Linked DNA regions of Homo sapiens: all the other regions are reported to be linked to region 4. The links are microRNA targets in miRTarBase. Many come from high-throughput screens and were not tested one by one. Region 4 holds a microRNA gene; each other region holds the end of a gene's coding sequence.

Region 1 (4,067 bases), not on the chromosome of region 4:
ATATAATTACCTAGGTTATATGTATTACAGACATCAAGTAATTCAGTGTAAATGATATTCAAAATTCAAATTAAGTATTTTTCCCCAAACGACGCAGAAAGCTTTTAAGAAATATTTAGACAAATTGCCACAAAGTAGAAGTCAATACTGAAAATTGCTTTTCTCTTTGCTCTTAGTTTGAAATTGAGGAGGAGGAAGAAATGTTGTCATCCGTCATACCAGATTCCAGGAGAGAAAATGAACTTCCCGATTTCCCCCACATTGATGAGTTTTTTACCCTTAACTCAACACCATCTAGATCTGCATATGATGAGCCTCATTTGCTCGTAAATATTGAGAAACAGAAACTAGAGTTGGAAAAACGACGACTGGATATCGAGGCCGAAAGGCTGCAGGTAGAAAAGGAACGCCTACAAATCGAGAAAGAGAGGCTGCGGCATTTAGACATGGAACATGAGCGGCTTCAGCTAGAGAAGGAGCGGCTGCAGATTGAAAGAGAAAAGTTGAGGTTACAGATAGTCAATTCAGAGAAACCGTCCTTGGAAAATGAACTTGGTCAAGGAGAAAAATCCATGCTTCAACCACAGGACATAGAAACAGAGAAGTTAAAACTTGAGCGAGAACGCTTGCAACTGGAAAAGGATAGGCTGCAGTTTTTGAAGTTTGAATCTGAGAAGCTGCAGATTGAAAAGGAACGCTTACAGGTAGAGAAAGACAGACTTCGAATTCAGAAAGAAGGACACTTGCAGTGATTTTTCCAGGCTTCCATTTAGCAAATGTTTGAAAACTCTAGATTTTTCTCATATCAGGTGATATAATGATGGTTGCTGGATTAGCTGTGGTTTCTTGTCTAATGTCAGTGTTCAGTAGGAAAAAGTTATATGTGGATAACTGTATGCCTAAGTAGTATATAAAAGCTGTGCCCTAGCGTAAACAGTATAGCAGAAACTTACTGTGCTGGACTCTTTACCTTATAATATTACATAGAGTCTTGTATTGTCTGTGTACCCAGAGTTTACAATTATGTCCATATAAAATTCTAGCCCAGAAGTTCTCATCTGGGGTAGATTTTGGCCTTCAGAAGACCAATTTGGTGATGTCTGGAGACATGTTGGGTTGTCAAAACTGGGGTGGGGAAAAGGTTGCTACTGTGCAATGCATACCTCCTCAACACCCCCCCACACTCAGTAAAGAATTTTCCAACCCAAAATATCATTAGTCCTGAGGTTGAGAAACCCTGTCCTAGCCTAACTGTGTACCTCTATAGCTATGTTTTATAGTTTTAGAATATTAAAACCTCAGATATTTATGTGGGTAGGTACTTAAATGGCCAAAAACTTTAACTATGAAATGTTACTGTGTAGTATATTGAATATAGGAAGTGATGAAGATTATAGGTATTTTATTCCCATGTTTCCATCTATAAATAGCCTTCTCAGATTCAGAAAACAATACAGAGAACATCAGAAATTTTCTAAAATGGGTCACTTTGAAAAGAATTCTTTTTCTCACTATTAATGCTTTAGAAGCAAGACGCAATTTTAAAGCTTTAGTTCCTTTTCTTTCAGTCATTGTCTTAGTTTGGGTACAAAAATGTCATTTCAGTAATGTACTGAAATCTTATAAGTGAATAGTTGAAGCTAGTAAAAATGATACCAGTATAAAAATGGTACTTGTAGTCCATGAGCTTGAACCCAATGACTGATTGTTTGACTTTTAAAATAAGTAATAGCAGCCATTTGGGAGTAGGGGGTAGGTGGGGAAGATGTACTCCGTATCAAATAATAATGATGTTGAAATAATGATAGTAGGTATGTATTATGGATTGGAGAAGCACTTATTACACTATCTAACCTAATATGTAGAACAATTCTTGAGAGTTGTATCTGTCGTTATTTCTGAATGTGAAGCTCAGAGAAGTGACACAGAGTAAATGGCTGATCTTCTATATTGTAGTATATTTTGTCCTTCCCTCTTCCCTGAGGAACAAAGCACGTATCTTTAGTCTCTTTGATATTTATTCTGAGACCAAGGGCTTGCTTGACCTGATGATTTTCCTTCAGCTCTCTGAAGGTGCTTTTTCCACAATCCAAGTGATTCTGATACACACTAAAGTTGAGAATCACTGCACTAGATCACTTTGTGTTTTCTGATTTTCAAGGTTGATACGTAGCTTTAATACAGCTCTTCTGTTGACAGTTATTACTTTAATTTTGCATTTGTTCCTTGTAAGAATGGCTGGAAACTGTGTGTTGACATTTGAGGATGGGTATGCAAGGAAAAAATATACTTCTGTTTACTTACTCTGACTTTGAAATAGTGTTATTTTTCTATATCTGAAATAAATGCTTCTACCATAGAAATAAATTTGCCTATACTATCTGAGAATTTGTAATTTCAGATGATACTCAGTGCTCTAAGGGTAGAGGTTATCAAGCTTAGAAGAGAGCCCTGTCACAGTCAGTGAGGACAGAGGCCTAAATAACATTTGGACTGGACATTGAGCTATGTATGCTGCATATGTTATTTGCTCCTCAAAAGAACCCTTGAGATCTAACTCAGGTGATACGGTTTAGCTCTTTCCTCACCCAAATCTCATCTTGAATTGTAGCTCCCATAATTCCCATGTGTTGTGGGAGGGACCCAGTGGAAAATAATTGAATCATGGGAGCAGTTTCCCCCACTGTTCTCATGGTAGTGAATAAGTAAGTCTCACAAGATCTGATGGTTTTATAAGAGGAAACCCCTTTCTCTTGGTTCTCATTTTCTCTCTTGCCTGTGTCCATGTAAGACATGCCTTTCACCTTTTGCCATGGTTATGAGGCCTCCCCAGCCACGTGGAACTGTGAGTCCATTAAACCTTTTTCTTTATAAATTACCCAGTCTTGGGTATGTCTTTGTCAGCAGCATGAAAGCGGACTAATACATCATGTTATCTCCACTTTTATGACAGCAACAACAAAAAAAAGCCTCATCGATTTAATTAACCATCTTTCTTAAAAATTACATACTAATATTGACCCAAGTTTTTAGCATAAGAGCTCTAAGGAAAAGGAATGGTGAAAGTTTGTAGGTATAGTTATAAGTATTGTAGCTTTGCCATTTGCTATTTGCGAAAGGCATTTAACTTGCTCTTCAATTTGGTTTCATCTGTAACTGGGGCATGATACCTACTCTGCCTGTGCTACATAGTTTTTTTTGTTTTGTTTTGTTTTTTTAAAGAAAATGGTAGAAGTATATAAACTATAAAATGCTACTTAAATGAAAGATGGTATTAATGTTGGATTTGAGATCCAGGGTTTTTTGAGATGGAATTTCACTTTGTCACCAAGGCTACAGTGCAGTGGCGCAGTCTTGGCTCACTGCACCTCCACCTCCCAAGTTCAAGCGATTATCCTGCCTCAGCCTCCTGAGTAGCTGGGACTACAGGCAAGCACCACCACCACCACCGCACCAGGTGAATTTTTTTGTTTGTTTGTTTGTTTTGAGACAGAGTCTTACTCTGTCACCCAGGCTGGAGTGCAGTGGCGCGATCTCAGCTCACTGCAAGCTCCACCTCCCGGGTTCACGCTATTCTCCTGCCTCAGCCTCCTGAGTTGCTGAGACTACAGGCACCCACTACCACACCCCACTAATTTTTTGTATTTTTAGTGTAGACGGAGTTTCACCATGCTAGCCAGGATGCTCTCAATCTCCTGATCTCGTGATCCACCCGTCTTGGCCTCCCAAAGCACTGGGATTACAGGCGTGAGCCACCACGCCCAGCCGCCAGGCAAATTTTTGTATTTTTCATAGAGACGGGATTTCACTGTGTTGGCCAGGCTGATCTTGAATTCCTGACCTCAAGTGATTCACCCGCCTCTGCCTCCCAAGCTTCTGGGATTACAGGTGTGAACCACCATGCTGGCCAGCTTTTAATTTCTTAGGGAAAGCATGAAAATAGCTAATAATTATTTTTGGATAGAGCAGTCTTAAATGCCTAGAAATGAGAAACTAAAAAGAAGCATAATATCTTCTAGGGCTTTGGTTGAAGAGCCTTGGGTTTCTTAACCTGCTTCAGGTGCAGA
Region 2 (4,067 bases), not on the chromosome of region 4:
GAACATAGAGTAGCTACCTGTGGGGATATTTAACCTTTTATCTGTACATATCTGCTTAGGAACAAAAGCAAAGGCAGTTGCTTACATGACTCAGCTTTCAGCTTAATTTTTTCCTTTTGGCAAAGTGAATTGGGGTCCCATGTTTTTATTTTCCTTTCACAGACTATAGTTAGTTTTGCACTAACTATAGCCAGCATCCCTCCCCCATTAACCCACTATGAGACAAGCCTTCCAGCCTTGCTGCCTGCTTTTGGAAGATCTTGCCTACTGTGTATGCCCTACTGGGTATATAAGTTTCCTGAGTATTTTGTTTTTTTCCCATTTATAGTGGCTCTCATATTTCATGTGCTACACAGCATCAGGCAATTAGGGGGCAATGAAGTCTGTCAGATAAAGGCCAACTGTAATAAAGAAAGCCTAATCTATCAAGCTGGTAATTTGCTGAATCACCTCTCCTATTCTTTTTTGTGCCTGTTCACCATAGGATTATGTAAACTTGGGCCCCCTGGGAGTGAAGCTTATGAGTGTGGAGAGCAAGAAAATGCCCATTCATTTTCAAGAGAAGGAAATTCCAGTCAAACTCTATAAAGATGTCAGGAGCCCAGAAAGCCACATCACATATAAGATGATGAAGTCTTTTCTCTAAGACGGAAAGCTGCAAAGGAAACACAACTTTTCCTTATAAATGTTCTTTGGGAACTGAAGTATATCCGTTGCCCATTTTACTTACACTTTGGCTCATTTTTAAACCAGCTGTTATTTCTAAAGGTCATATTTACATTTAAAATCAAAGGTATTCAGCTATTCATTTACTTGCATGGTATGAGTGACCAAAACGGAAGCACGCTTTGTATTTCTACACTGAAGTATTCAGAAGCATGACAGTGGGTTCAAGGTAGTCTCTGAGGTTCCTTTTCACACACAAAAAATTCACTGATTAATCTGTGATTCCAGTATGAAATAGTTCCATTAGAAATGTTTCTAAGAAAAACTTAGAAGTTTGCATAGCATTGTCTACACATCTTTCCCTCTGAGGATGCTCAATGTGATAGACAGCCAGTCTATAATGCAAGCCAATTCTCCGTAGTTTAACCCTGTGTATTAGTCTGTTCTCATGCTGCTAATAAAGACATAATTGAAACTGGGTAATTTATAAAGGAGGTTTAATTTATTTACAGTTCAACATGGCTGGGGAGGCCTCACAATCATGTCAGAAGGCAAATGAGGAGCAAAGTCACATCATACATGGTGGCAGGAAAGAGAGGGCTTGTGTAGGGGAATTCCCATTTATAAAACTATCAGATCTTGTGAGACTTATTTACTACTTCAAGAACAGTATGGGAAAAACCTGCCTCCATGATTCAATTACCTCCTACCAGGTCCCTCCCACAACACATGGGGATTATGGGAACTATAATTCAAGATGAGATTTGGGTGGGGACATAGCCAAACCATATCACCCTGTTTATAATGAATATAAAAAATGAATGTTGGAAATAAACTTGAGAGTGTTAATTTGTTGTATAAAAATATTCCACTGATAGGGAGCACTCCCTCCCTCCAGCTGTATCTAGTCTAAACTACCACATTCCTATCCAAAGCAAATACCACTTCTCTCAGGGCTACCACAAGCCAAGGACACTGTGAGTACCTGGATGTGACATCAGCATTCCATTTGGATCCTTGAGACCAGATAATACCACCATATGTCATATTTCTGTAATCTTTAGTGATATAAGGATTAATTTAATCATCAGTGGGGGATGTTATTGGCATTTAAAGTAAGGACAATTGTGCAGCACTGTCTTGAGCCCACAGGATGTTAGCACTCCTGCTCCCTCAATCTCAAATGCTGCTACATTAACACTCTTCATTGTAGAAGTTGAAAACACTCGTCATCTTTCCCAACACCCCTTACATTGTAGTACCATCACCAATTGAACATCTTTGAGTTTCTCAATTTTTGGAGACAAGGACTCACTCTGTCACCCAGGCTAGAGTGCAGTGGCACTATCATAGCTCACAGCATCCTGAAACTCCTGGGCTCAAGCAATCCTCCTGCCTCAACCTCCCGAGTAGCTGGGACTGCAGGTCTGTACTATCATGCCTCAACCTCCAACAGTGCTAGGATTACAGGCATGAGCCACCGACCGGCCTCTCCTGTACTTTAATCTCCATTGTGTTCGGTGCTTTCCTGGACCCTTCCCATTCTCTCCCAAAACTTCCAACAACAACCTCTAAAAAAACAATAAACAAGACAAATGCCACTGTTGAAGGTGTAAATGTCCAAGGGGTTCACCTTGCCTGCTGCCTATACAGAGCCAATTCCTCAAGACAGGGGAGCCGGGCATGGTGGCTCACCCCTGTAATCCCAGCATTTTGGGAGGCCGAGGCGGGTAGATCACAAGGTCAGCAGATCAAGACCATCCTGTCAAGACCATCCTGGCTAACACGGTGAAACCCCTTCTCTACTAAAATTACAAAAAAATTAGCCAGGTGTGGTGGCAGGCGCCTGTAGTCCCAGCTACTTGGGAGGCTGAGGCAGGAGAATGGAGTGAACCCGGGAGGCGGAGGTTGCAGTGAGCCGAGATCGCACCACTGCACTCCAGCCTGGGCAACACAGCAAGACTCCGCCTCAAAAAAAAAAAAAAAAAAAAAAAAAAGAGGGGAATTGCAACAGACAAAAGAGTAATTCACACAGAGCCAGCTGTGCGGGAGACCAGCGTTGTTTTATTACTCAAATCATTCTCCCTTAGCATTCGGGGAGCAGAGTTTTTAAGGACAACATGGTAGATGTGGGGAAGCCAGTGAGCCGGGACTGCTGATTGGTCAGAGATGAAATCATAGGGAGCCAAAGCTGTCCTCCTGACCAAATCAGTTCCTAGATGGGGGGGCCACAAGATCAGATGAGCCAGTTTATCAATCTAGGTAGTGCCAGCTGATTCATGATGTGCAGGGTCTGCAAAATATCTCAAGCACTGATCTTAGGAGCAGTTTAGAGACAGTCAGAATCTTGTAGCCTCCAGCTGCATGACTCCCAAACCATAATTTCTAATCTTGTGGCTAATGTTAGTCCTACAAATGCAATCTACTCCCTAGGCAAGAAGGAAGACTGCTTTGGGAAAGGGCTGTTATCATCTTTGTTTTAAACTGTATACTAAGTTTTTCCCAAAGTTAGTTGACCCTCCGCCCAAGAATGAAAAGGACAGTTTGGAGATTAGAAGCAAGATGGAGTCAATTAAATTAGATCTCTTTCGCCGTCTTGGTCATAATTTTGCAAAGGCAGTTTCAAAGGTGTCTTTTCTTTTTGAGACAGGGTCTCACTGTCATCTAGGCTGGAGTGCAGCAGCATGATCATGGCTCACTGCAGCCTTAGCCTGCCAGGCTCAAGGGATCCTCTCACCTCACCCTCCCAAATAGCTGAGATCACAGAAGCACACCACCATGCCCAGCTAATTTTTTATTTTTTGTAGAGATGGTGTGGGGCGGCGGGGGGGGGGGAGGTCTTACCATGTGACCTAGGCTGGTCTTAAACTCCTGAGCTCAAGTGGTCTTCTTGGCTCAACTTCTCAAAGTGCTAGGATTATAGATGTGAACCGCCATGCCCAGCCTGTTGAAGGTTTCTTTTACTCTCTGGTTTTGACTGGCACCTGGCTTTCCCCAGAAAGAGCTCACTTCCCCTGTGGCTCTCTCTCTAGTGGTTGGTATTGATTCTTCTCTGCCACCACCTTCTGTGGGGCTACATGCTTTCACTAATGCAATGCCTCTTCTAGACCACAATTCCACCAGTCTCATGTAAAAACATGCCTTTTGAAGCTCAGTATATATATCACCCTCTACTACTATTCTTTGCTATAAATTTCTAACCCTTCTCATCACTCTTCTCCATAATCTTTAATTTGGCACCTGGTTCACAGGCCTCTTTTCCACTCTACTCCATTCCCTAACAGATCCATCTATTGAGATACCTATTAGTCATTCATGAGTATAAAATTGTTGCATGTATGTGTGCTTCTGTTTGACCATCCCAGATCCACTCTCTACCCTTATCTCTGTGTCTCAAAGGG
Region 3 (4,062 bases), not on the chromosome of region 4:
GTCTGGAAAAGGAAGACTATGGGATTATGCCTCCAAGGGACCTCGAAGGTGGAGGGTACTTAGTGTTTTACTAGACCACAGTGCTGGGAGCTGGGACTCTGGGGTCTCTGGGTGACAGCCTGCAGAAGGTGAGGGGCAGTAAGGCCACAGCTAGCCATGGCCTGATCTGGTGGCTTCCTCTCCCCAGTCTCAATACAGTCTGACAAGAGCACAGCAGTCCTACAAGTCCTTGGTGCAGATCCACGAAAAAAACGGTGAGGCTGGAGCCAGGACTCAGGAGATTCGGACACTTGCCACACCCAGGTTTTCACTTCCAGCCACAGAGCAAGAACCCCTTCTTTTGGTTTCTGATACTCAACCACCCATTAACACAGCACCTGCCCCAGTTCTCCCAGGAGGGACTGGCGGTGGCTAACATTCACAACCTCTTCCAGAAACACACCAAAATGATCGTATCACCGATAAACTTGGTGCTACCCCCTTCTTGACCACCTTTTGAAAAAGCTCATCTAACTCTCCCATCATCTCAGGTTGGGCACATCATTCCCCCTTCTCATCTCCAGGTATGCAGGCTCTCAGCTTCCCATACACCTCTCCCCACACAGCATAGCCCTCCCCAATATCCTCTTATCTCTGCCACTGGAGACGTCTTCAGGGATTGGGGCAGGACAGGGAGGGTGGGCCTGAACCTTCACCTCACTGACCATTCCATTTCTTTGCAGGCTGGTACACACCCCCAAAAGAAGACGGCTAACCCTGGAGTATCACCCTTCCTCCCTCCCCAGGCACCACTGGACCAATTACCTTTGAATGCTGTATTTGGATCTCACGCTGCCTCTGTGGTTCCCTCCCTCATTTTTCCTGGACGTGATAGCTCTGCCTATTGCAGGACAATGATGGCTATTCTAAACGCTAAGGAAAAAAAACAAACACAGAACTGTTTCAAGTACTCAAGACTGACTTACAGACCAACCAACCACCTTGCTGGAACCCTTGCTAGCAGGCATTCTTATAAAAGAAACTTTCGAGCCTCCTTATATTGCTGGAAACTCAGCTGTGCTCCAGACTAGAGCCTCCTTACCTATGCTATGGATTTTTAATTTATTTTCTCTTATTTCATGTACACTGCTTTTTTTGGTTACAGTGTATGATGGATGTGTATGAAAAAAATGTATCTTTGGGAAAACAATTACAGTTTGTTAATTTGAAGATGCTGGTCTTGACTCATCTTTATTTTTATTCGCACATCCCACCCCATCCCCTGAACTACTTGGGAGGTGGGGAGGGGTACGAGTCCACTGTTGCTTTGGTAGAGATGAGAGGCCGCATTTTGCTGCTAAAGCAAGAGAAACTTGGAGCTGAAGCACACACCTGGTCTGCCCCTAGATTTCTCCTCAAGGCCTCTGGAGCAACCAGCACTTGCCCCCTTGGAATGCAGAGCCTGGCCTGCCAAACTACAATGTGGTAGGCTGAAACGATGGTGTTAATTCTTAGGACTACTTTTCTAGTCACAGATGTTTTCAAATTTCTAAGAAAAAGAAAATGAGGCTCAAGAGGCTGCTTCGTAGAATTCCTTTTGAATGAATTGAGTGGGGATGGGGACACAGTCTCCAAGTGTGTATGTGGTCTTTTCTGATCTCAGCTGTGTGGCTGCAACTCTTCGCTGTTCATTGGTTCCTCTCCTGGAAAGTGGCTTCTAACCAGCACTGGATGGTGATCATTGGTAAGCTTTGCTCACCTCCCTCTCTCTTGCTTCATTTGGCTTTATCAAAAAGAACAGACCTAGCTCTGAATTTGTTTGGCTTGGGAAATTATGGATTCTTTCAAGCCACTCCCACAAGGTGGGTCCTACTAGAAAGGGTTAGCATTTTAAGGGGGGTTGTTCTATACACCTGTGTCCTTACCCCAGGCTCAGGAACTGCCAGGGAGGGAAGATGAGGTGGGGAGTCTGTACTGAGATGGAACTGTCAGTGCTGTGTTGTATGTACTTGCTGTTGTAAAAGTTTGGGCATGACTTTGCATCTAGCGGGTGCTGCCTGCATCTCTTTGTCTGTAAGCTTGCTCTGGGACTCAGCCTCTTAGGACCTACGATGCCAGCAGCTCTCATTAACAGTGAAATGACAGAGGCCAAAGATGGCCAAGTGAAGACCCAAGTCTCAGAAAACCCAGACTTGGGACAACTGCCTGGGAACTAGGATGCTAGAGCAGTTCTGTAATGCTTTGAGACACAGCAATTTTCACATTGGCCATTCTTTCCCCTCCCCTACCCCTTTTCTTTTGAGGGACTTTTAATGTTTGCTGCTTTAGGTGGATGGAGAGTCCACCAGTCCCACTCAATGCTGCTCTAACTCTACCCACACCCACCTAATTAGGGGTGCTAATAAAACATGCTGAGGTTGAGATAAAGACGGGACATAAGGGGAAAATTCATTCCATAGAGCTGAAATCTGGTTTTCAAGGCCTCTGTGGCTTTCTTCTGAACTTACCACCAGCCCTGGCTGGAATGTAGATTGTGTTTTTAGTAATGTGTACTGTGAGCTGTCTTCTGTATAATGTATTTTGTAATGTATTTTTCTCATCTACCAAAGGATGAAACAAATAAAATTATTTAAATAGTTTGGCTCTAATAAAATTATTTGAAGAAACAGTGGGGTTCCTGTTCACTTGACATAGAGGGAAATGCCTGCCCCTGTGAGTTGCATAACACCAACTAACTCTAAGAGAATCCTCCATTTTTCTTGCCAAACCCAGCACTCCCTTTTATGACCTTAAGTTTAGGGTTCTAATAAAGTACAAAGTATAAAAAAGAAACAAGGCCATATCATCATGAAACAATTTTCTTCTCTCCACTTAGAAGGCAAGGAGAAATAATGAAACTAACTCTTAGGTTGTTCCCCTACACTTCAAACATGTATCTATATCCCAGGCAGGGTTTGCATGGCCCAGAGCCCACACTGGCAGGCTCTAATCTCACTGCAGCAGTTTTAGAGGGCACGGCAGGGCAGTGGAAGGGTGGCTGGAAAGAAGTATCAATCACTCCAAACTCATGAAACATGCCAACATTTATTTGCTCATTGGTTAAATATTCTCTACCTATTCTACATGGAATGCCAGGAAAACCAGCAGAGGGCTTCTCCATTATCCAGAATCTGTTAGGACCACTTATATCATGCTCTGGGGTGCAAAGAAGAGACACAAGAAAGACCATCCCAGCTGCCTCAGGCTTTCAACCTAATGGTAGTTTCCTATGTTTGGTTCAAATGTTCATGCCAAGTTGGGGAACTGAAGACACATGACAAATGAGACTTCACTCTCTTTTGAGAGGGAAGCTGGGAGTAAAAGCAAAATTGAATCAATCCTGGGCACAGTCTGGCCTTTTTCACCTCCCAGGCCTCAAGAGTGAAAGGGGTACGAGAAGACAGGGCAGGTGGCCTCTGGATCCGTGGCAAACAGGAGAGGGAACATGCTGAGGGAAGCCCCGTTATTTAGACTCTTCAAACTTTAGGATGTGCAACTGGAAGAGAAAGACAAAGCCTTGGTGGGAAGGAAGGCCCACCCGAGCCAGTTCACCCAACCCCTCAGATAACCAGTTCGTTTGATCTAAAAGAATGCCAGGTAAATACTGTGTCCAGGCCTAGGCAGCAGCCTGCTGCAGACACCCCAAGGGCAGGAGTGGAGGGACAACAGCCAAGTTAGATGCAGGAGCAGTTACCGCCGAGTTCAAAGCACCAGTGATTTTCCCTTTGAGGATTCGATGGACAACCTCATACGAACTCAAAATGTCTGCAAAACAAGACACAACAACAAAACCTCAGTGGCACGGGGTTGGGCAGGAGGAGCAAAGGAGGGAAGCAAAAGGCGGGGGCTGCAGGGAAAGTGCTCTGGCCGCCAACCAGCTCCAACCAGCAAGTCTCTGCTAGTTCCTGCTAAATCCCTGCTGCCAGGATCAAATGAGATGATAAATGCTGAAAAGGTAGCATAGGGGGAGGGCAAAATAACAGCAGATAAAGGGAGGAGGCACTTGTTAAAATAATTACAGGGATCTGGGATTTTTAATGAGAA
Region 4 (4,067 bases):
GGCAGTGACCGACTGTCAGCCTCGCTAGGGTCGGGAGCGACTGGTTTTGACAGAATGTAAATGAACTTTTCCTCTTATTTGCAAGAAGTTAGTTATGTCTTGGAAAGAAATGTGTGATTAATTTCACATTGTCTCTCCCGAATTAAAACTTTAAAGGTTGTTTAGTTTTCCCCGTAGGGACTTGACATTGTGGAAGTTTGGCTAGAATGCGCCGAGAGAAGGTACATCGTGTGTTTGGGGTGTGGGGGACGAAGGCATATGCAAAATTAAAAGACAAAACGTTGTAGAGTATGAACAGAGGAAGAGGCGTATTCTTTGGCTCTTAAATCATTTAGCCAAACACATTGCAGTTCAGAAGGGGGTGGGGCTATGGCAACTCGAAAGTATCGATTCTTTGTCTATTGTATCAGTGAATGACCCTCTCCTGAAGTGACAAGACGCCCCTTTGTAATCTCTTTTCGTAAGTAAATTTCAGTCTAAGGGGAAATATGTAAACTAGGGGATCGAGGTGGCTTTTTAGGGGTGTAACTCGTTGTACTATCACTGGGAGAGATGAAAGGGGTTAGGGTGAAAGGTATAAATGAATTTGATTCCAAGAGCAATCTGGAAGGGACCTTCGCCTTTGACACCGATGCTGTTTCGAATGAACTTTTGTTTTTCTAAGTAGTCAACTAAGGAAATGTTAAATTAGGCATGACTTTAACTTCTGACATGATGGCTCGTATATTTGTGTGGAACAAAATGTTGGGAGAAAGTTGTGGAGTTTTACATGATAATTGTACATTTGCTAAACATGTTTTTTTTTTCTTTTTAAGGGCAGTCAACGACATTTTTCTCCATTAATCCCAAAGTCAGTGTAAAAGTTGTTTGTAAATATCATTGCCAAAACAAGATGGAATGTAGAGATACTTGATTGTCGCAATTTAGGGAATGGGGTTATTGTTACTAATGACTTTTTTTTTTTACCATGACATAGTGTATTTGTTACCACTGGATCTCAGTCTGGATGTTATAAATTCGATACTTAATCTTATTAAATACTCTGCACATTTTATTAACTAATAAATAGGACACTTAACATTCATTGTACTGGTTTTGAAAAACCGACTTAATTTGTAAGTGTAACAAGATACTTACAGTTGGATAATTTAAATGTCTATTACTTGTGCTGAAATGTATTTAACTTTCAAAACCATTACAGTTAGTGCTGATTTTGTTGTTTTAACTTTTAGGTTTGTGATTGAGGATTTCAGAGTGGGTTTTTTTTTTAATGCTTAATTGAATATTGTATTCAAACAAAAAGAGGGCATGCATGTGACTTGTTGCTAATATGTGTCCATTTTAAAAAGGAAAAAGTGGTATCTAATGAGTTAATCATTAAGGAGTATGCGCAGTGCCGGCCATTTCAGGACATGAAAGTTTCTGTGGAGCTGCTTGAAACAGGAAGGAGCGACTTGACATCAAGTATTTAAACTTTTTGATTTATGTTTTGATAGATGACATTGATAGGTATAAATTATAAATAAGTTTGAGTAACCAGTTTAATATGTAAACTGGTATTTCATCTACAGAAAGTTCTCTGTCATTGTTTGGAGCTCTTTAAAATAACTCAGCTGGGGTGTTTAAGAATAAAAACACTAGCAGTGAGTTAGGACATCTAATGCTTTTAAAGATAGATGTATATGTCGCAACGATAGTGTAAGAATCAGCTGAAGCTACCGGTGAGGTTTTGGTTATTTTCTTTCAGTCATCTGAGTCCATTTCCAATAAAGGTTGTTTTTTTGTTTCGTTTTTTGTTTTTTTTTAATGGGGACAATGAATGAGACTTGTAATATGCAGCAGGAAGAAGTTTCACCAAGACTTTGAAACTGGCAAGAATGATCCAGATGTCCAATTGCCTCTACTTAACCTTATTCGTCTACCTTCAGAAGTAATTAGATTCTCTTCCACACTAATTCGTATCCCCCATCGCTCTGCTTTTCACCCACTACGTTGTTCCAAGATTCATCCTCAGGGGAAAAAATTGAGAGCCACACTTTCGGCTCCACCTGCAGCTCCTGGAAATCAAATGGTGAAGTTATAAGAAGTACCTTAACTTGGAGTGAAGTGGCCTAGTCATAAGTTTTGCCCTATTCCTTGCCAGGGGGTGGGGCGGGGCTTCCTTCAGTCATCCAGTCTTTATTCACCCGCAGGTACCCCCAGATCGATCCCCCTTCATTGACTCCGAGGGGATACAGCAGCAATTCATGTTTTGAAGTGTTCTAAATGGTTCAAAACGTGAGGCGCTGCTATACCCCCTCGTGGGGAAGGTAGAAGGTGGGGTCTGCCGGACGCGTGTTCCTGCCACCAGGTGCCCGCTCCCCGCGAGGCCGGCTCAGGAGCAGGTAGGTGGGCGGGGGCTCGCGTCTCTGTTTCCGGCGGGTCCTCGCCCTTGTCCACGCAGCAGGGCTGTAGTCCGGGGAGGGCAGTATTCCTGGCTAGGCTGGGGCGCATAGGCGGTGCGAGTCGAGGAGAGACGCGGTGCCCGCGCTCAGCCGTGCCCTAGCAGCGGGAACAGTTCTGCAGTGAGCGATCGGTGCTCTGGGGTATTGTTTCCGCTGCCAGGGTAAGTCTGGGACTGCCGTTCGGGCCTACCCAGCAGGTAAGTCTTAGGCCATCGCCTGCGGTGTCGGCCCCGGGAGCAGCGAGACCCAAGATTGCATCAAACGTTTGCCCCGTCTCTGCATATGTGACTGGACGTGAATGATGCTTCATTTTGGCACCCCCTTTCCCTGCTCAGGTAGAATGTAAACAATTGAAAAAAATCCCTTCCCAATCAGAATACCACCCACAGGACAACGAAGAAAACCTATCTTCAGTCCCCACCCACGAAATGCTGGGGGGTGGGGAGGACTGGAAAAGGAGTAAGGGGAGAGGAAGGGTGAGCAGCTGCAAGAAGTCTTTACACCTCTCTGCGGTTCCTGGTAAACGCGCTCATGTCCTGGGTATGGAAGGGACTTAAGAATTCAGGAAAGATCAAAATAACGGGCCTCTTCCCCACTCCCTCGCCCTCCCTTCCCCGCTGCTGGGGGGTTAGGGAGGCTCCGTGGAGCTCCAGCACTCTAGAAGGATCGGGTGAGGCGCGAGGCCTTGCGGGCGGGTGAACCCAAGGTGGGGTGGAAGGCTCCAACCCGCCCAATCTGAGCCCGAGGCCTGCTGAGAAGCATGGGGGCCTTGGGATAGTTCCAGAATGAGGATGTGCGTTTCTAGCTGCTTTGCGCCCTCCTCCCCCAAAAATCTGCTACCACAATTCCAACCCGGCGGCACGCCCCCAAGACTCCTTTGTCGCCCCAGGGGCGGGACCTGAGCTGTCGATTTCAGGAGCCCTTCGTGACTTCAAAAGTCCTGGGCACTGTTGCTCATGAGTGCTGCACAACTGTCGCCCTCTAAAGCCACCTCCATCCCTCACTGGGCTGGCCTCCTGAGCCTTCGGTGAGGAAACGGGGTTCCGAGTTGCCCGCCTGAGAGCTTAACAGTCTGACTAGAAAAGGGCTAATTCGCTTTCTGTGCAAATCTCTTGAGCTAATTATTTAATCTGAAACATGGACAGGTAAAGGACCATTGGCGGGCGTGGGGAGGGAGGTGTGGAATCTTTCCCACACTTTTTGTCACCTTAAAGAAAAAAAAAAGACACCCAAACTCCTCTGGTCTGAATGGGCTGCCTGGAACTGGGCTTCCCGGGGCCAGGAGTGGGCCCCTAGAAGTTTCCCAGTTTGGGGTGGGGCCGGGGTTCCGAAGTCTAGAGCTGGGAGTCGGGTTCAGCGGCCCGAGACGCTGGCTCTCCCAGACTCCCTTGCGCCGGGGCAGTGCGCGGGGGCGGCTCGGGTCCCTCCCGGGCCGGCGGGGACCCTCAGGCTCCCGGGGCGCCGCCCACCAGCCCGACCCGGCGGCCTAGAAATCCCCATTCTGCTCCCGCCTCGCCCCGGCCGGCCAGCGCAGGGCCCCTCAGGCCCGCAATCTCCAGGCTCAAACGGCGAACAGGTCCCCGCATCCGCCTGCCTTTGCACTTGGGGGTGGGAGAGCCACCT
Region 5 (4,067 bases), not on the chromosome of region 4:
TTCAGGACTGTCTTGTCACCACAAAAAGGAAAATGAAACTGTAACAATGATCACTTTTTCTGATTTAAACAGAACTTTCAAATCCACCGTTTCATTAATTCTTGTTAGAATCATCTGAGGCAGGCAGAGTGGGAATCATTATCACCTTCTTATAGATGAGCATTTGAGTGTCAATAGGGTTGATGATCAATAACTAACAGTACAGCAGTTGCCAGCGAACATAATATTTTTATGAACACAGTCTTGTGGAATTTTCATAATCCTGTGTGGTTGGTACTACCAGTCCTACCTTACAGGTGGGAAAGCTGAGGCTTAGAAGGAGGAAGTGACTTTCTTGTGTGTCTAGGGTCATACAAGGAAGGCTGGGATTCCACCTTACATGTTCTTTGCTCATTTCTGCCACTGTATCAGAACTCTGTAGAAGGAGTGATCCAAACAAGGCATGGCTTCCTAGGACATCAGAGAACGGGTTCTGCTTGTTTCTGTGTCTCTTTGGATTGAGTCTCCCTTGTTTGAATCACCCTTCTCATGCTGACAGTCTAATGCTTCTGCATCCCAGGCTGCCCTCCAACCCCTGCGCCACCACCAATGCATGTGAAAAGCCCATTGGATCCTGTGTCACCAATCCTTGTGGTCCTCGTTCCCGCTGTGGGCCTTGCAACACCTTTGGGTACTAGATACCCTGGGGCCAGCAGAAGTATAGCATGAAGACAGAACTACCATCGGTGGGCCAGTTCTGCCTCTCTGACAACCATCAGCCACCGGACCCCACCCCGAGGCATCACCACAAATCATGGTCTGGAAGGAGAACAAATGCCCAGCGTTTGGGTCTGACTCTGAGCCTAGGGCTACTTGATCCTCCTCACCCCAGGTCCCTCTCCTGTAGTCAGTCTGAGTTCTGATGGTCAGAGGTTGGAGCTGTGACAGTGGCATACGAGGTGTTTTGTTCTCTCTGCTGCTTCTACCTTTATTGCAGTTCCCCAAATCGCCTAATAAACTTTCCTCTTGCAAAGCAGACATGATTCTCATTTGTATTCATTCTTTTCAAAGTGTTGACTCTCTGTGTGCTTCTTATAAAGCCACTTGAAAGCAGAAGGAGGACTTTATAGGTTAATCATCTCCTAAAAGGTCTTCATCACCTTCATTAACATTCATTAAGCACAGTGAGTCCCAGCATCCACTTAGGCCAGCATAAAACAAGTAGGATCACTAGGACAAGAGGCCTCGTCTGAATATGATAAACATATTTCTCATGGGACCTTACTCAGTAAAATGCAACGGTGAGCATCTCTAGACAGTTCCACTCATTCTTTTAAGTCCCTAGCAGGGATGACAGAAGTTAATATTTATTGAACACCTACCAAATGCCAGGAATTGTGCTACTAATTTTTTCTCTTCCTCACAGTGAGGAAGAATCAATGGCAGGACTGAACCCAGAGTTCACTCTCTGCTTGTCAGTTACACATGAGGTGTGATTATGAGAGGACAAAATTGATTTCAAACAAGCACCCAGAGCTTATACATCCTCCTGGGGAGACACAATGCTGTTAGTGCTCAAAACATCTCTGAAACTCTCCTTTGTGAAATACTGAATAACTCAATACTAAAAAGCACCACCTTGCCATCTTCCATATTTGAGCAATACCCAACCTATTTTGAAAGTGTTTCTTTTCTCACTTGAATTGTTTAACCATGGGAACTACATATGAATTTCGGGACCCTCCCCCTCAAAGTTATTTAGAATCAAATTAGGATATTACAAGTCAGGTGTTTGCAAATGCTAACAGTGACCACGGTACTGGTGCCTGGCCCCTACTGGTGCCTGCTGATGTCTAACCAAGGTTAATGGCTCCCATCACTGTGCATGCTGTGGTTTGTGCCAAGGCCACTCCCTCAGTCTGCAGATTATTCCCAGATTAACCAATCTGCTAATTATGTCTTCTCTCCTTGAGATGAAGCTGATACTATCTCCCCTGCTGTGATGATGCCGGTTCCATCATCACATGTCAGTCTTAAATTCTTAAATTTTTTTTTTTTTTTTTTTTGGAGACAGAGTCTCACTCTGTCACCCCAGCTGGAGTGCAGCGGCATGATCACGGCTCACTGCAGCCTTGAACTTCCCAGGCTCAGGCTATCCTCCCACTTTAGCCTCTTGAGTACATGGGACTACAGGCATGCACCACCATGCATGGCCAATTTTTGTATTATTTGTAGAGAGGGGTTTCGCTGGGTTATCCATGCTGGTCTTGAACTCCTGGGCTGAAGTGATCTGCCTACTTCAGCCTCCCAAATTGCTGGGATTACAAGTGTGAGCCACTGCACCTGGCCAGTCTTAAATTCTTGTGCTCTCATATTCTAGTTCACTTAATATCTACTCCTTTGTTGTTGATGCTGCTGCAGCTTAGACAGGAGACCTTGGAAGACCGTCTGAGTGATACTCCATCCTCTGCTCAGAATGTCTTAGACCCAGTTTGTGGACTCTATTCTCTCTTTCCTCAGGGAGAGTTCATTCCCTGGAGCTACCTGCATGCCTCATGAAAACCGCCCTTGTTCAATTTATCCCGGCAGTTCTCCACACATGCTGGGATTACTGTCCACTGATAGTTACCTCTCAGCTACCTTCACCAGGAACAGTGCCTCCCAAATACCCAGTTGCATGCTTTGTGAGTGAGAGGTCAAAGTTCTCAACACAGTAAATACACTTTGTTTTTAGTGTTCAATTTATAAAATATTAAGCAAAACTTGTTTCTATGTTTGATGTTGTGTCAGCGGAAAACATGGGTCTAGGGAAAACAGTCCTTAGTTCTTATCTCTGCCATGGTGCTCTCCTTGGAGGATAAAAGAAAGGAGTGTCAGGGAGATCACTTTTTCTCAGGACAAAGCCAAATTGCTCTTCTGAAGTATCTGGGAAGGGTCAGTGTTACCACTGAGAAATAAAACTAAAATCCTAAGTCCCCCAGCTGACTGAACGGACTCTGTCTTGGCCAAGGGGACCGAAGAGAAACCTTAAAAACAGAGTCACATGTATGTTTATTGCAGCAATGTTCACAATAGCAAAGGCCTGGAATCAACCCAAATGCCCAATAATGATAGACTGGATAAAGAAAATGTGGCACATATATACCATGGAATACTATGCAGCCATAAAAAAGGTTGTGTTCATGTCCTTTGCAGGGACAAGGATGAAGCTGGAAACCATCATTCTCAGCAAACTAACACAGGAACAGAAAACCAAACACCGCATGTTCTCACTCATAAGTGGGAGTTGAACAATGAGAACACGTGGACACAGGGAGGGGATCATCACACACTGGGGCCTTTTGGGGGGTGGGGGGCTAGGGGAGGGATAGCATTAGGAGAAATACCTAATATAGATGATGGGCTGATGGGTGGAGCAAACCACCATGGCACATGTACACCTATGTAAAAAACCTGCACGTTCTGCACATATATTCCAGAACTTAAAGTATAATAAGAAAAAGAAAAAAGAAGGAAAGAAAGAAAAAAACAGAGTCCCTGACCATGACAGGATGGGAGGTCAGACATGCCTCAGTATGCCCCCTCCTTATTAACTTTTAACCAGAATTCTTTCCTAAGGAGTAAGCAGAAACCAGCTCTGGAAAATAAGAAACAGATGAATCATTCCTTTATCACCTTTAGCCCATCATCTGAAGCTGTGACTGGATTCCTTCCTCCCGCCTTTTGCAGTTTCAACACAGCAACCAACTGGCTGGCATTCCTTCCTGATAAGAGACCACCAACCATGGAGTGGTCTGGCCAGTCTACAGAGGATGTGCGGTGAGGGTTTTCACATCCTCTGCCTCACCTTTCAACATCAGAGGGCCAAAAACTCCATCCTTGGATCATGCTAATGCCACCATTTGTGAACATGCGACCCATGAAGAGGCATGAAGCTCAATTGCACATGCTTACATTTGTCTTTTCATAAATATTCATGACTCCTCCTGTAGCTTATTAAATAGTGCATTTGGCCACCTCACTCAGCATACATTCCTTTCTCACATTTCCCTCCCTCAAAATGCTTACTCTTGGCTTCTGCCAGAGGC
Region 6 (4,067 bases), not on the chromosome of region 4:
AGCAAATGTCTCCTGTCCTTATCTGTAAATTTTGTGCAGTACCTACCTCATAGATGGGAGAATTTAATGAGATATTTGTACACCTAGCACGGTGGTTGACACGTAGTAACTTTTAGTAATTGGTAGTTACCAATATTGTAGATATTGGTAGTATTACCAATAAAATATATGTCAAGGCCAGATGATATGTTTATCCAGAATAAAACTTAATTGCTTACTAGTAATCCCTTATAAAGGAAATAGGCAGACATGCTTTGACATTGTGACAACATGGAAAGTAAGTGGGTTGCTTTCAAAAGGGTTACATAATTGAGCAACTCTAAAACCTTTTTTCTTCTTCCTAGGTCTTAGTGGTGCAATGGCTAGTATAAGCGTGCGTTCGAGTACCCCAGGCTCTCCTACACATGTAAGCAGTGGATCGAATGCTAGTCGAAGGAGAAATGGACTCCATGATGTCGATTTGAACACTTTCATATCAGAAGAAATGGCACTCCACTTGGACAATGGTGGAACTAGAAAGCGTACCTCAGCCCAGTGTGGCGATGTCATTACAGACTCACCAACCCATAAACGCAACAGAATGATCTAAACTGCAAACATTTTCACACCCACCATGCTGCTTGAAAGCCACTTGATCCTCAACATATACTATAATTGCAAAGGAAACATGAGGCCATCTTCCCTTGTTCACTGTTTAAGACAAGTGAATTCTATAGTGGTTGCCATAAAAGGAAGTTCTAGGTATTTATAGTAGATGCCTCTTGTAATTATGGCTTTCTTAAAACTATAATCCTAGCAGAGGACATCAGATATTGTGTAGTCGTTAGCAAGATCATCATAGGCAAACATATATCCGTTCCAAGGCTAAAAGTGACCTTAACTGTATTTATTCTCAAAGGGAAAGGAAATATCAGATGTTTATTTGGTTATAGAATGCTTTTTTTTTTTTTGGGTCCATTTCCTGCTGTGTTGAGTATTTTGCTTCAACAGTATTGCCAGGTTCCTAAAATTGTCTAAAAACATGATTTGGCTTCCATTTTTGCAGCTGCACTGTACCATGCACCTGGTTTCTATATAGTAACAGTGTGCAATTCTAATTATTGGACTGTGCCCTGTTTTTAGTTTTCAAATCAATTTCTAATTCTGGTGATTGTGTGATGTAAAGAGGTGCTATGATGGTCATGCAATTAATACTAAATATTGAATCAATGCCCAGAGCTTTATTGGATTCACTTTGTGTGTGTTAGTGCTCTAAAGTAGCAGTATTATTATTAAACTGTCCCCAGAGTAACCCTGTAGGCCTAAAGTACTCAGTTTTAAGACAAACACTACTTCCCATGCGGGGTACTTTCCTTATGGTAAATGTAAACATGTAGACTGCATTCGAGGTGACCTAAAGTAGAGAGGTCATGAACTTTGAGAATGGGCTTCCTTTTTGGTTCAGTATTAGTGAGAGGGAGAGGGAGATGGATGGTGGGGTAGGTTTTCTAGTCTATCATTTTACATTTTTCATGGAGTCCCTGCTTAGTGCAGTTTCCATTGGAATGGGTGGAAGATGATAAAGCTCTCTTTTTTATCTACTAATAATGTGATTGCAACTTAAAATAGCAAAACCCAACTCTCCCTGTCCCTCCAATCCCTCTCCTAAAAAGTTCAGTTTGGAATCTCATTCTGGAAAAGATGGAATCGCATGGAGATTCTCTAGCTGTTAGGTAGACCTAAATAAAAAGTTCTCAATAGATTCCTCTTTTGAGTAAATATAAGACCTCTTGTAGCTACAATGTTTTAGAGCATGTTTCATCTTCATTTTTAATATCCTGAACTGAATGATAGTGTTTTTTTAGATGAAGAACTGATGTCAGCCTGCCAGGTACTGTAATTTATTCTATCATATTATTATATTATATATCAAGTAGGACAGTGAAAAATGTTTCCTTGCAAACTTGTAGTCCAGTATCAGTTACTTCCTATTTTTATCCTTAAAAGACCATTGCAAATCAGTGTAAGGGTTTTTCCAGTAATTACTCACAGCACTTTGTTAAAGTTTGCAATTTCTTCAGCCATTTAATAATATCTTTCTGTGAAGAAACTTTGCTGAGTTAACCATAAATGTTCATTCATTGACTGGGTGGGATGTGAATGGAATGTTAGAAATGTTGTGTGAATTGAAGTTCTGTATTCATTATAGATGTAGCCCTTATTTAAAAAAGTGAATTCCATACTAAAACTAGGAATGAAAGTGAGAGATTTCTAAACTTTTGCGAAAGTGGGTCATTTTTTGTTTGACTATAATAGCAGGAAGAATTATAGCAATCTGTCATTTTACCTGAAACAGACAAGCCTATGTATTATGAATACTTTCAAGCTTCCCTTTGGAATATACAAGACATGCGTTTGGAGTTACCTTTGTTTTTCTATCGTAAATTTAGATTCTGGAATTGGGGTTTGGTGGTGCAATGTGTTGCTCACAAGTGGCCAGAACTCCTATTCCTAAAAGGATTTTGAGATGGAGGAACACATATTTAATTCCCCTTTATGCCTTGGTTCTTGCTCCTCTTTCCACGTTGGATAACAATTTTTTGGTTGTTTTGTTTAAGTTGGTGCTCTGAAGCTTAATCTCAGTACCCTTTACTCTGAATTGTCAAATTTTGATAAAACGTGCCATTTTCTTTGGTAAGAGAAAGCAGGTCTTAATGTCTGCCAGAACACAATTTATATGCCTTATTGGCTTCATTAAACTTTTAGAAAACTTTAGCATTTGTTACTTTTTTCCATTGCGTTTACTTTCAAATGCACCTAATGAATTTGTCACCCAGTCGCAACTTTTCCCTTCTCTGTCCCATTGCTTTCTCCTTTCCCCGACGCACAGAATAAACATGAAGCTCAGCAGTAGAAGCGTAATGATTTCCCTCAGGAAAAACTTCTGACAGCTAGGTTTTTCAAGGGTTTCCCTGTGCTAGCTGAGATGCAAAACAAATCATGGAAGATTGCATACCTGTGTGGTATTTTAAAAACAAGTTGACTTTTTCAGTTTCTTGAACGGTTAAGGGTGGATTTAAAAACTAGACAGTTTAGTTTTGGGGAACAGAAGCTCTCTTCGTCTTAAGCCAGATTCTCTGATTCTTTTAGACGTCATAGCTCCTTAGTTCTGCTCCTGTCGCCCTAACTTGGCATGGGCAAGTTGAAGTTCATCCTTAGACTGCAGCGTTCTGAGCATGGCTGAAGTATTAAAATGTTTAATATTTTTTAGAGCAAAATTGTTGGAAAGCATTTGGCTGAATCTAAAGACCTGCAGTCAGATTCTTCAATGTGGTTTACCCAACTGGAGTAGTGATAAACACCTTAATCATAAAATGAATAAAAACAAAAAAACCATGGGGCTTGTCTGCAGTTTTGTTTTGGTCATCACATCTGAATAACTTTTTGATGCAATCAAATGAAGTTTAGGCTTTTAAAAAAGAATTAGCTTTCTAAATGTTTTTTTCTAAGGGCTACTGGAACTCATTAAACTCGAATAATTGTGGCTTTGGGCCTGAAGATTTCCATTCAACAGTGAAAACTGGCTAACTTCCTTTATAGTGAGAGGGATGGCCAACATCCAACCCAGAGGGCTAGTCAGCCTCAGAGGCCAGTGCAAGACGCCAAGAGATGATTTTGAAATGGGGCCATAAGTTTAGAAAATTATGAACAGAATGATTGAGTTTTTGGCCTGGCTACTACCTCTAGTGGTGACTACGTCAGCAGATTAATCTCATTGCATTTTACTTTATGTAGTATGTTGTAACCTGGTGCTTCATTCATTAGATTGGTGACTGAGGTATTTAGTCATGGTGAGGATGGGAATCTTCAGAGATACATTCTGGATTTGTGGAATAAAGTGACTAGAAAGGTTCTTCCAGAGCAACCCCTTGTTTAAAGTTATAAGTGTTTATGGTACCTGCTACCCCTTCTGGAAAGTTGTCGGCTTTGATGGTTTAGATGACCTTACCCCATAAGGCCAGCTTCTAGCCTCCCTTTGGAATATTTGAGGTGTGTGATGTTTTAGTGGGGGCAGCATTTGAGAGACG
Region 7 (4,067 bases), not on the chromosome of region 4:
GGTTCAAGCGATTCCCTGCCTCAGCCTCCTGAGTAGCTGGGGTTACAGGCGCACACCACCATGTCCGGCTAATTTTGTAGTTTTAGCAGAGACGGGGTTTTGCCCTGTTGGCCAGGCTGGTCTCGAACTCTTGGCCTCAAGTGATCCACCCACCTCGGCCTCCCAAAGTGCTGGAATTACAGGCTGAGCTACCACGCCTGGACAATTTCTTAAAAAATTTTTTTAAAGTAGGATTGATAGCAGATGAGTTTTCTCGGTGGGCCAGGTCCTCTGCTAGGGATTTCAATGGAATGATCCCATTTAAACCCACTACAACCTCATGGGGCTCTTATTGTCCTCGTCTTGTGGGGGCAGAGAGGAAAAGTCCCCAGCATGCAGAGTGTTGGAATCTGGATTTGTACACAAAGCCACGACTCTGAATTGTTCAAATCCCAAGACTCTCTTCCCCATCTCTGACTCTGTCCCCCAACTCTTCACTCTCTCTGGATCTCTGTCTAATCCCACTCCAGTGTCCTGACCCTCCTCGAGCTCAACCTTTCCTCCTCCTGCTAGGACCCTGCCCCCTCATCCCTGTGCCCTTCTGTCTGGGTCTCTGTCCCCTTGTCTGGGTGTCTGTCACCCTCCGCTCTCTGGTTCCTCGCCTTCCCGTCTCTAATCTCACAGGGCTGATGTGGACGCTGCTGTATGGGGGGAACACCTGCCCTGCTCACAGGGCTCTGCCACTTTTCCCTTCCAGGAGGGCATCCTGGCTGTTTCACCCGTGGACTTGAACTTGCCATTGGACTGAGCTCTTTCTCAGAAGCTGCTACAAGATGACACCTCATGTCCCTGCCCTCTTCGTGTGCTTTTCCAAGTCTTCCTATTCCACTCAGGGCTGTGGGGTGGTGGTTGCCCTACCTGTTTTTGCCAAAAATAAATTGTTTAAAACTTTTCTTATTAAAAACGTTACAAAGTATTCAATTGTCTGTTCTTACACTTGGGAACTAAAGTTTTAAGGAGAGGAGATTTGGTTCAGAGATTTCTGTGGCTTACGCAAATTGAGGAAAGAACCAGTTCATTCATTCTAGAAATATTTATTTGCAGCACCTACAAGAGCCTGTCTCCTGGACATGTAACATATTTGAGAGAATACCTGTAAATATTCCAGCAACTTGCATTTTTTTTTCCTATTGCACGATCTGGTTATTCTAGCTAATGCTGTATGATGGTCATGGAGTCTTTCCAGTGAATTCCACAGAAAGGTACAGTCTAACTTCACCTGTGTCTAGGACACCACCCTCTTCTTGTTTTTCTCCTCCCATTGCTCCTTTCAAGTCTCTCTTGCTGGTTTCTCATCTACCTACAGACCAGTGGTTTGTCTCACACACACCCCCCACTCTCCCTTTTTTTTTGGAGATAGGGTCTTGCTCTGTTGCCTATACTTGCACTGTTATATAGATACAGTGGCACTATCATGGCTCACTGCAGCCTCAACCTCCTGGGCTCAAGTGATCCTCCCACTTCAGCCTCTCTAGTAGCTGGAACTAAAGGCATGCGACACGACGCCTAGCTAATTTTTAAAAAAGAATTTTTATGGGAGGCCAAGGCAGGTGGATCACTTGAGGTCAGGAGTTCAAGACCAGCCAGGCCAACATGGTGAAACCCCATCTCTACTAAAAATACAAAAATTAGCCGGGCATGGTGGTGGGTGCCTGTAATCCCAGCTACTTGGGTGGCTGAGGCACGAGACTCGCTTGAACCCGGGAGGCAAGAGGTTGCAGTGAGTTGAGATCACGCCACTGCACTCCAGCCTGGGCAACAGAGCGAGACTCCGTCTCAAAAAAAAAAAAATTGTAGAAATGGGGTCTCCCTTATGTTGCCCAGGCTGGTCTCCACCTCCTGGGCTCAAGTGATCCTCCTACCTTGGCATCCCAAAGTCCTGGGATCACAGGCATGAGTCACTGTGCCTGGGCGGTTTGTCTCCTTTATAGGGCCATATCCCCCTTCACAGAGTAATGTTTGTAAATTAATAAGTGAAATGTACAGGATTACAAACCGAACCAATTACAGTTGATCCTCAGTATTTGTAGATTATTTGCAAATTTGCATCCTTGCTACAATGTATTCATACCCCAAAAATTAAGGCAGTGCTTTTGTGGTGTTTTGGAGGGCAATGCTTATGCACAGAGCTGCAACAAGCTAAAGACCTGATGTGCATATTTGCAGCTGGGCTCCTCTTGCTTCAGCTCAAACACTGGAAACAAATGTCCTTTTCTTGGTTTGTTTAGTGCCATGCTTTTCAATTTTTTTTTTTTTTTTTAAAGTTAGAGTCTCGGTCTGTCGCTCGAGCTGGAGTGCAATGGCTTCATCCTGGCTCACTGCAACCTCCACCTCCTGAGCTCAAGCGATTCTCCTGCCTCAGCCTCCCAAGTAGCTGGGATTACAGGCGTGTGCCACCAGTCCTGGCTAATTTTTTTATTTTTATTTTTATTTATTTTATTATTTTTTGAGATGGAGTCTCGCTGTGTCGCCTAGGCTGGAGTGCAGTGGCACCATCTCAGCTCACTGCAACCTCTGCCTCCCGGGTTCACGTGATTCTCCTGCCTCAGCCTCTGGAGCAGCTGGGACTACAGGCGCCCACCACCACACCCGGCTAATTTTTGTTTTTTTAGTAGAGACGGGGGTTTCACCATATTGGCTAGGCTGGTCTCGAACTCCTGAGCTTGTGATCCGCCCACCTCAGCCTTCCAAAATGCTGGGATTACAGGCGTGAGTCACCGCGCCCGGCCAAATTTTTTTTTTTTTTTTTTTTGAGACAAGAGTCTCGCTCTGTCACCCAGGCTGGAGTGCAGTGGCGCGATCTCAGCTCACTGCAAGCTCCGCCTCCCGGGTTCACGCCATCCTCCTGCCTAAGCCTCCACGCCCGGCTAATTTTTTGTATTTTTAGTAGAGACGGGGGTTTCACCATGTTAGCCAGGATGGTCTCGACCTCCTGACCTTGTGATCCGCCCGCCTCGGTCTCCCAAAATGCTGGGATTACAGGCGTGAGCCACCGCGCCCGGCCGCCTGGCGTAATTTTTGTATTTTTAATAGAAATGGGGGTTTCACCATGTTGCCCAGACTGGTCTCGAACTCCTGATGTCAAGTGATCCGCCTGCCTCCGCCTCCTAAAGTGCTGGAATTACACCCGTGAGCCATCGCGCCCGAACCCTATTGTAAATTTTAAGTCTCAGGCGTTTGCCAGCGGCACGCCAGAGAGTATAGCCTGCGCGGAGGCCCAGAAACCAAAGAGCGAGCTCATTCCGGGATTGGAGAGAAGTGTGAGCAGAGGGAAGTAGAGGGATCGGGGAGAGGAGGGGCAGGACCCACGCATTCGGCCCTTTGCATTCAGCTTCATTCAACTAGGAACTTTTTCTGCAAATCAAGGAAAGCTTCCCGGAGGAAGTGGTGCCTAAGCTGTGCTCTGATTCACGTTTAGAAGCTGACCAGACAAAGAGAGGTGGGCGTTCCTGGCAGGGGGAGGGACTTGGCAAAAACCAAGTGGCTTGAGAGGGGTTGATGGTTTTAAAAAACTTGGAATGATTATGTCAAGGGCTAGGGATTTAATGTGTTGACGACGGACTCCTATTCCTCACTTGCTTCGGGACCCCAGCTATGCCCTTCCTCTCTCTGGGCCTCTCACCGATTCCGTTTTTCCCCCAGGTAATGAGCACAAGCTCCCTTTTTCCTCCAGACTCCCCCCGGGTTGGGAGGATCCACCGAGTGGACGAGGAGTGATAATTCCTTTGAGCCAATCGTTGGTGCCTGAAGCCCCGCCTTCTTCCCTACCCGTGGGCCAATTGCCGTGTTCTCCTTGAGGCCGGCCGCTTGGCGAGGGTGGGCCAAAGGCTGCGTGACGTCGCTTCCGGATAAACCAATGGCAGCGATTAGGAGGCGGGTCGTTTTGGTGATGGACAGGTGTTTCAAGACGCCCCTTTAGCGCGGGGCTCCCCGGGAAGCTTTGAGGCGGTGCTGGGTGTAAAGGGGAGGGCATTCCTGGTGGATTTTGCCCAATCACCAGTCGCGCTTCTTGCAATAGACGGGCAGTT

Evidence for each region. The annotated mature microRNA hsa-miR-424-5p reads CAGCAGCAAUUCAUGUUUUGAA and lies in region 4 at 2,235-2,256, shown strand. An mRNA with a match to its seed (bases 2 to 7 or 8) in the 3' UTR can be bound and repressed. Matches are read on the target gene's strand: a 7mer-m8 pairs with bases 2 to 8, a 7mer-A1 pairs with bases 2 to 7 and ends in A, and an 8mer does both.
Region 1: the mRNA of MSANTD4 is a reported target of hsa-miR-424-5p. The part of its 3' UTR that is shown has no 7-base or 8-base seed match.
Region 2: the mRNA of CCDC83 is a reported target of hsa-miR-424-5p. Seed matches in the 3' UTR shown: 8mer at 1,116-1,123.
Region 3: miRTarBase lists UBE2Q1 as a target of hsa-miR-424-5p. Seed matches in the 3' UTR shown: 8mer at 1,332-1,339, 7mer-m8 at 2,297-2,303 and 7mer-m8 at 2,338-2,344.
Region 5: miRTarBase lists KRT33B as a target of hsa-miR-424-5p. Seed matches in the 3' UTR shown: 7mer-m8 at 954-960.
Region 6: the mRNA of HAPSTR1 is a reported target of hsa-miR-424-5p. Seed matches in the 3' UTR shown: 7mer-m8 at 615-621.
Region 7: miRTarBase lists BCL2L12 as a target of hsa-miR-424-5p. Seed matches in the 3' UTR shown: 7mer-A1 at 802-808.

The regions. Positions count from the first base shown.
Region 1 is chr11:106,006,220-106,010,286 of GRCh38, reverse strand. It overlaps MSANTD4 (Myb/SANT DNA binding domain containing 4 with coiled-coils), which reads left to right. Exons shown (of 3, transcript NM_032424.3): 3 at 177-2,388. The coding sequence ends at 752. Among named protein-coding and RNA genes, the nearest start is that of MSANTD4, 14 kb to the left of the region's middle.
Region 2 is chr11:85,918,865-85,922,931 of GRCh38, forward strand. It overlaps CCDC83 (coiled-coil domain containing 83), which reads left to right. Exons shown (of 11, transcript NM_001286159.2): 11 at 485-1,149. The coding sequence ends at 646. Among named protein-coding and RNA genes, the nearest start is that of CCDC83, 66 kb to the left of the region's middle.
Region 3 is chr1:154,547,130-154,551,191 of GRCh38, reverse strand. UBE2Q1 (ubiquitin conjugating enzyme E2 Q1) reads left to right here. Exons shown (of 13, transcript NM_017582.7): 12 at 188-254; 13 at 723-2,615. The coding sequence ends at 754. TDRD10 (tudor domain containing 10) reads right to left here. Exons shown (of 13, transcript NM_182499.4): 12 at 3,713-3,783; 13 at 3,045-3,514. The coding sequence ends at 3,482. Among named protein-coding and RNA genes, the nearest start is that of UBE2Q1-AS1, 4.4 kb to the left of the region's middle.
Region 4 is chrX:134,544,869-134,548,935 of GRCh38, reverse strand. MIR424 (microRNA 424) reads left to right here and starts at 2,225; the gene lies at 2,225-2,322. MIR503HG (MIR503 host gene) reads left to right here and starts at 2,306. Exons shown (of 3, transcript NR_024607.1): 1 at 2,306-2,384. It overlaps MIR503 (microRNA 503), which reads left to right and starts at 2,538; the gene lies at 2,538-2,608.
Region 5 is chr17:41,360,446-41,364,512 of GRCh38, reverse strand. KRT33B (keratin 33B) reads left to right here. Exons shown (of 7, transcript NM_002279.5): 7 at 560-1,015. The coding sequence ends at 677. Among named protein-coding and RNA genes, the nearest start is that of KRT33B, 7.3 kb to the left of the region's middle.
Region 6 is chr16:9,116,324-9,120,390 of GRCh38, forward strand. HAPSTR1 (HUWE1 associated protein modifying stress responses) reads left to right here. Exons shown (of 4, transcript NM_014117.3): 4 at 345-4,067. The coding sequence ends at 589. Among named protein-coding and RNA genes, the nearest start is that of HAPSTR1, 27 kb to the left of the region's middle.
Region 7 is chr19:49,672,962-49,677,028 of GRCh38, forward strand. BCL2L12 (BCL2 like 12) reads left to right here. Exons shown (of 7, transcript NM_138639.2): 7 at 737-955. The coding sequence ends at 787. It also overlaps a transcript of PRMT1 not described here. Among named protein-coding and RNA genes, the nearest start is that of PRMT1, 2.3 kb to the right of the region's middle. RefSeq lists enhancers at 3,795-3,944, 3,949-4,067.